Linked DNA regions of Homo sapiens: region 1 is linked to region 2. Evidence: fine-mapped expression QTL. A gene starts in region 2. The other region holds a variant in brackets. All regions are shown on one strand. Distances are from middle to middle. Region 1 overlaps STUM (stum, mechanosensory transduction mediator homolog). Region 2 holds the start of STUM (stum, mechanosensory transduction mediator homolog).

What was found. PIP is the estimated chance that this variant, and not a neighbour inherited with it, causes the effect.
Region 1: its variant is the best candidate, but not a certain one, in a credible set for the expression of STUM in tibial artery (GTEx, PIP 0.51).

The regions. Positions count from the first base shown.
Region 1 is chr1:226,586,914-226,589,814 of GRCh38, forward strand. All of the region lies in intron 1 of STUM (stum, mechanosensory transduction mediator homolog), which reads left to right. Among named protein-coding and RNA genes, the nearest start is that of STUM, 40 kb to the left of the region's middle. The variant G/A (reference allele first, on the strand shown) is at 1,610.
Region 2 is chr1:226,547,429-226,550,329 of GRCh38, forward strand. STUM (stum, mechanosensory transduction mediator homolog) reads left to right here and starts at 1,336. Exons shown (of 4, transcript NM_001003665.4): 1 at 1,336-1,678. The coding sequence starts at 1,477. RefSeq lists a silencer at 320-614.

The sequences.
Region 1 (2,901 bases), 39 kb after region 2:
CAACCACCCTTCCCCGTCCCATCCCCGTCTCCTCAGTTCACCCTCTAGCACTGAAGCCTAGACTCTGTCATGGCAGGCTCGCAGTTAGGGAACTGAGAAATTCCATGTGGTTAAATTTCTGCTCCAGCTTAACATCCTGGGAAGACCCCTGAAGAGACCTATGGTGTCCAGTTCTGTAGCGCAGCTCCCCAGCCCCGCCACAGAGTGCCCAGGCTGGGAGCACATCAGAGGTCTAGGAGGGGGCAGGCAGAGGGCAGAGGAGGTTTGCTAATAAGCACAGGGAAGCTGATGCACACCCGGCGCCACTAAAATTAATTATTAGCTCCAGTCGCCTTCACCCCCAGCAGGATGAGAACTGATGTCACAGTCAGGAGACTGAGGGGGATGGAGGAGGGAGCTGGTCTCATTTTCCTTCTGTCCTCGGAAGGAAGGACACCAGATGGATGTGTGGCATCCAAGAAGGCTCCTGTCGTCTTTCCTTTATGCCAGTTGGAAAATCAAAGGCACACACTAACAGCTGCAGCCCACCTGATGCCGCAATACACCTGCAGACTGTGACTTACCAGGGTCTCACCTGTACACCCCTTGTCTGCCTGAAGACTCGCACCCCACCGTGTTCCCCTGACCCCCTCAAACCTCACAATCCCAACGCATTTGCCGGAGAACCCTTAGCATTTACCCGAGACCCTGGGAGGAATGAAGAGGGTTTGTCCCAAGCTGGCACTTTCTGACTGGGGAGAGAACAGAGGGCCTCTGGATGTGGGGGAGCAGCTGAGGCTAAGGGAGAAGTGGTTCAAGATGCCATACACCTTCTCTCTGCTGGGAGACAGAAGGCCACCTGTCCACTCTTCCTCATTCTCTTCCATGAAACCCATGCATGGAAAGATTTAAGCCATAATAAATCCACTCTCCCATCTCTAGTTGATCAAAGGTGGGTTATTGGCCACTGGGAACTGCCGATAGCAGGAAAGACCCCTTAGTTACTGCATTGTGATGGGATCACAATGAAATGCTGGCAAGTTCGGCTTTCCAATGGGCAGTGTGACCTCACTATGGTGTCTGTGCTTTCTCTAATGTTGAAAGCCACTCACAGACCCTTTGCTGCTCCAGGATAGAGGCATCGAGGGCACTGGCAGATTCATTCTGCAAAAGTGTGTGGATGTTCAGGATGATGAGGATGCTAGAACTGTTCATGTTTTACTCTGCACTATTCCAGATCGGTTTTATGTTCTGAGTCCTCCTTGCAAATTCCTTGCTGGCCAGGACATGAGGCTGCACACAGTGCTGGGTCTACAAAACACTTTCTAGGGGAATGACTCGGTGCAGTTCTAGGGGAAGACACAGCCCCTCCGCAGACCTGCTCAGCTTCGAACCCTGCGCTGATATGCCCTTTGGTTGACACCTTCCTCTCCCACCTAGTGTGGTCTTCTTGTGCTCTGTTCTGGAGTGGCCGAGCTGAAAGGATGACACTGCCTTCCCTCAGCACATATGAGCACAGGATATCCCATATCTTCTGCTCCATTTCTTGAGAAAACAGAACCCAAAAGAGTTGCCATGAAGAGCATTTGAGTGGCCCAGGACCCTGGCCTTGCTTTCTGCAGCCTCCTCT[G/A]GTTTACTCAGGCCACAGCCATATAGGCCCCATTCACATTCAAGGCTACGCTGATTCTGTGTCCCTGGGACTTGTCCAGAAGTATTTGTGAAACTTGTAGTCAGTTCTCTTTCCTTTCCTTTTCTTTCTGGTTGAAATAATTGCACAATGAGGCAAAGATGATGACTAGACCTCCTGAATCAGACTCTTAGGGTGGTGGGGCCCGGGAAGGTGTATTTTTAGCAATCTCTGATTTTGACCCTGAACATAATCTCCCATTTAGCTTATTCTGGCCTTGAACTAGGCAGCCCTTGGCAATGGGTCCTGTTTCTTAGGGTGTGAAGAACCTGTTTCTTTGGCTTTCAAAATCAGCTGTACATTTCCTTCCTGACCCCCAAAGCTCACATTCAGGGTAAGGCCTTGAAAAAAGGCCTTCCTCAACCAACTCCTCCGGAGAAGTGAGGGAGGGTGTCCAGGTGTAAACCACAGCCACTGAGGAGCAGCACATCATAATGACTGCAGAGCCAGCTGGAGGTGACATCTGGGATCAAACAACTTGCTGGCCTAGGTCCTGGGGGCAGTTTTTACTCTGAAGCAGCTGCTTCGGAAGACAGCTCTGCCTTTCTCCCACTGAGTTCCAAGAGGCTTTAAGATCCCCTCTCCAGACCCAGCACCTCCCAAAGCTCCCACGTGAGTCATGCGAAAAGCTGAACCCGGTGAGAACTCCAAGGACACTTCCAGCTCTCAGGCTCTATCTCGTGGGAGCAGAGCCGCCCCCTTCCTGATGGGAGACTGTACCAGCCACTCCTGGCTGCTTCTCTTCTCGTGCCTGACAGCCAAGCTCCAGGAACTCTCCCCAGAGGACAAGCCCAGAGAATCTCTTTGGGGCTCCCAGGACGGAAGTGGAGGGACCCTTTTCTCTCCCTACTGCCTTGTCTTGGAGCCTGGGCCCGGAGCTCCTTGGGGAAGCTGAGAGTACAGAGACCACAGTGATGGCAGCCAGGGCTCAGCTCTGCTTGTGTTTTTGCTGCAACTCTCCGTGGGAGGACTTCCCCAGGCCTCTGCTGCCTGCCTTTCTTCCCAGGATCATGGTAGGACGTGCAAACCACATGTCTGTGCCTAAGTCCCAGGTATCTTACAACACACTGATTTTGGTGGTTGACAATACAGTTCATTACCATCATTTTCCTTGTGCCAGTTAGTGTTAGCTGGGACCTCCAGGAACAGCATGCGCAGGGCCAGCCTCAGCCTCCCTGTCCCTGCTGCAGAGGACCATCTCCCCGCTCCAGCCCTGAGTCATGTGGGGGAAGCCG
Region 2 (2,901 bases):
CTGCCAAACCTAAGCTAATGACTCGTGTGTGTGTGTATCTGTGTATGTGTACACACGCATGTGTGTGTCCACCAGTATCATCACTAACCCCTGGCCATTTGCTTTTAAAATTATTTTATTCAGAGACTTATACAATAAGTATAAGTATACAATAACCCATGTTCTTTTAGCCTCTTCTGAGACCCTGGGTTGTTTATAATAATAATCACTATTATTCCTGAAGGGAGGCTATTGCACCCTTCCAATTATTCAGACGATTTGCTGACTGTCTGGATAATTCCGAAGCCTTTAACCCCTCCCTAACGTTAGAGGCGGTAACTTTCATCCGTTTACTTTTTCCAGGTGCGGAGGCGAAGCAGCCTTATTCAGAAAATCGAATTCAAACAGGACCTCAAGCTGCCGGCTGTTGCTTCTACCAACTGCCCCATTATTAACGCCAGACGGCGCTGTGTCCTCACTGGCTCTTTAACCACCACGTCGGGCTCACAGAAGGCTCAGGTTTCCTCCAGTATAGTTCAGGGGATGGTGAACGCTTCCCAACAAGCCTGCAACAGGCGCATTTCTTTCTGCTTTTGGTGCGTGTGTGTAGGGAAGTGTCCCATCTTTTAACTAGTCTTGCGGAGACCTGGCCTGGTGTTTGCAAATCTGTTTCCTCTATTATCGATCCGATCTCTGGATTGCTTTTTCTCTGACACTTGAAACAAATTCACTCCTATATATTTTTTAAGTGATTTTTTTTTTTTTTTTTTTTTTTTACAAAATAGAGCTGGGGCGGGGGGGGGGGGGTCTCGCTACGTTGCCCAGGCTGGTTTCGAACTCCTGGGCACAAGTAATTCTCCCACCTTGGCCTCCCAAAGTGGGGAATACAGACGGGAGCCACTGCGCTCGCCCCAAACAAAATCATTTAAATCACAATGCACTGAAGGCCGACTAGGTGTCAGGCGCCGCGCGGTCCGTCCCTTGTCCCCATGTCCCTGGCCAAAGGCTTGCTCTAGATCAGGGGACTCAGCCTCGAGGCTTTCCCGACGGTGTCAGCCAAGCACACACTCCCAGTTCGCAGGGCTTCGTGGTCAAGGTTCCTAGTTCACCTGTCTGGGAGGGCGAGGTGTGTCCACCCCTTCCAGCACCTGGGCAAACAGCTCCCTTTGCGGTCCTCTTCCACTGCTTTCCCTCCGCCCTGATTTTCCATTCCTTGTGAGCGGTGGTTTTGGTTGGGGGGAGGGGGCGGGGAAGGGGCCTGGCGAGGAGGGGCGTCAGAGCGCTGTCACCGGGTGTCGCGCCGCCCTCCCCGCCCCTCCGCCGGGCGTGTGGGGACGCCGGAGGGCGGGAGTCTCCGCGAGCCGCGCGGCGCACGGAGCACGGCGGCCGCCTGAGCTCGGCGCGGAGCCCGGAGCCCGCAGCCGACAGTCTCCTGCTCCCGTACGCTGGGCGCCAGCTCCGGCCGTGCTGCCCGGCTGCCTGAGAGCGCGCCCGGCCATGGAGCCCTCGCACAAAGACGCCGAGACGGCGGCGGCGGCGGCGGCGGTGGCGGCGGCGGACCCCCGGGGGGCGTCCTCGTCCAGCGGGGTGGTGGTGCAGGTCCGCGAGAAGAAGGGCCCCCTGCGCGCCGCCATCCCCTACATGCCCTTCCCCGTGGCCGTCATCTGCCTCTTCCTCAACACTTTCGTGCCGGGACTGGGTAAGACACGGCTGCCGCGACCCTTGCGACCCCCACCCCGCCGCGGGAGGGCGTGGGGGGAGAGAAGGGCGCGGCCGGAGACCTCCTGGCGGGGCCGCGCGCTCCAAGTGCTGCGACCACGCGCCACCGCCCGCTCCTGGCGTCCCCGGGCAGGTGGCAGAAGCGCGTGGAGTGTGCACCCCAGAGGGGAGAGGCTGCGCTGGGGTCTCCGACCCGCAGGCGGGGCCCCAAAGAGCCGGAAACTTTGCGGCCAATGTTGGAGCCCGCAGCGGCGGCCGGAATGGCTCTGCCGGCTTCGGAGTAGGGCTCCCGTCCCGGCGCCCCGATTTCTGCTCCTTCTCTCCGTCGTGTGCATCCGTCCGCGAGCCCACTTCCCCGAGAGGAATGGGGTCGGATCAGAATGAGCTCTAGGGCCTCGGCGGCGAGGATCAAACTCCCGGGCGTCGAAGTCAGCTGAGCCGGGGAAAGAGGACGAGCCGGGCTAGATATACCTGCAGCCCCCTTTGGTTCGCGGAGTGCGGACCGCGTGGGGACGAGAACTCTAGCCAGAGTCTCCTCCGCCTCATTCAGGGGTACCTGCACTTCCGCCAGCACCCCGCAGGGCGCCAGGGGGATGGGGGATGATTTTATTAGTTTGGATGCATGTGGCCAGAGATGAACCCATAGCTCCCTCGGATCCCTTCTGTTCCTGAGAAGTAGAGAGTGCGCCGATGTAATTCTGTGCAGGACTCCGGCAGCCGGCAGGGGTTCTGGTGGCATCTATGTCCCACGTTTTAAAGCAGAGGCCCCTTACAGAGATGGTGCAGGAGGGTGAATGGAGGCAGGGAATGAGAAGTTTTCCTGACCCTCCCTCCCTTAACTCCACCCCCAGGTCTCTGCCTGCACGCCCCTCCCCTCCTCCAGCTTGGCACTGGCTGCTCCTGCGTGCTGGGAGGTGCCCCCCTCTCCCGTGCCCGCCCGAAGAACCAGGCGCCCCAGTGCCCTCTCCGGGAGAAAGCGTGCCCCTGTCGGCGAGCCTGTTGCCAACGTATGGTTCCAAGTTCCCAAGAGCAGAGGCCAGCTGGAAGGGGTTTTCAGTTTGACTTTGGCCTTTCTCACGGTCTCCTCGCTCTTCGCCTGCTTAGCAGGGGCCTCTGCTGCGGTGACAGCCAAGGCCACAGCCACCCACGCAGGACCCGTTCACTTTCCCCTCCGAGCTTACTTGTCTTTCTACCCTAAGGGGC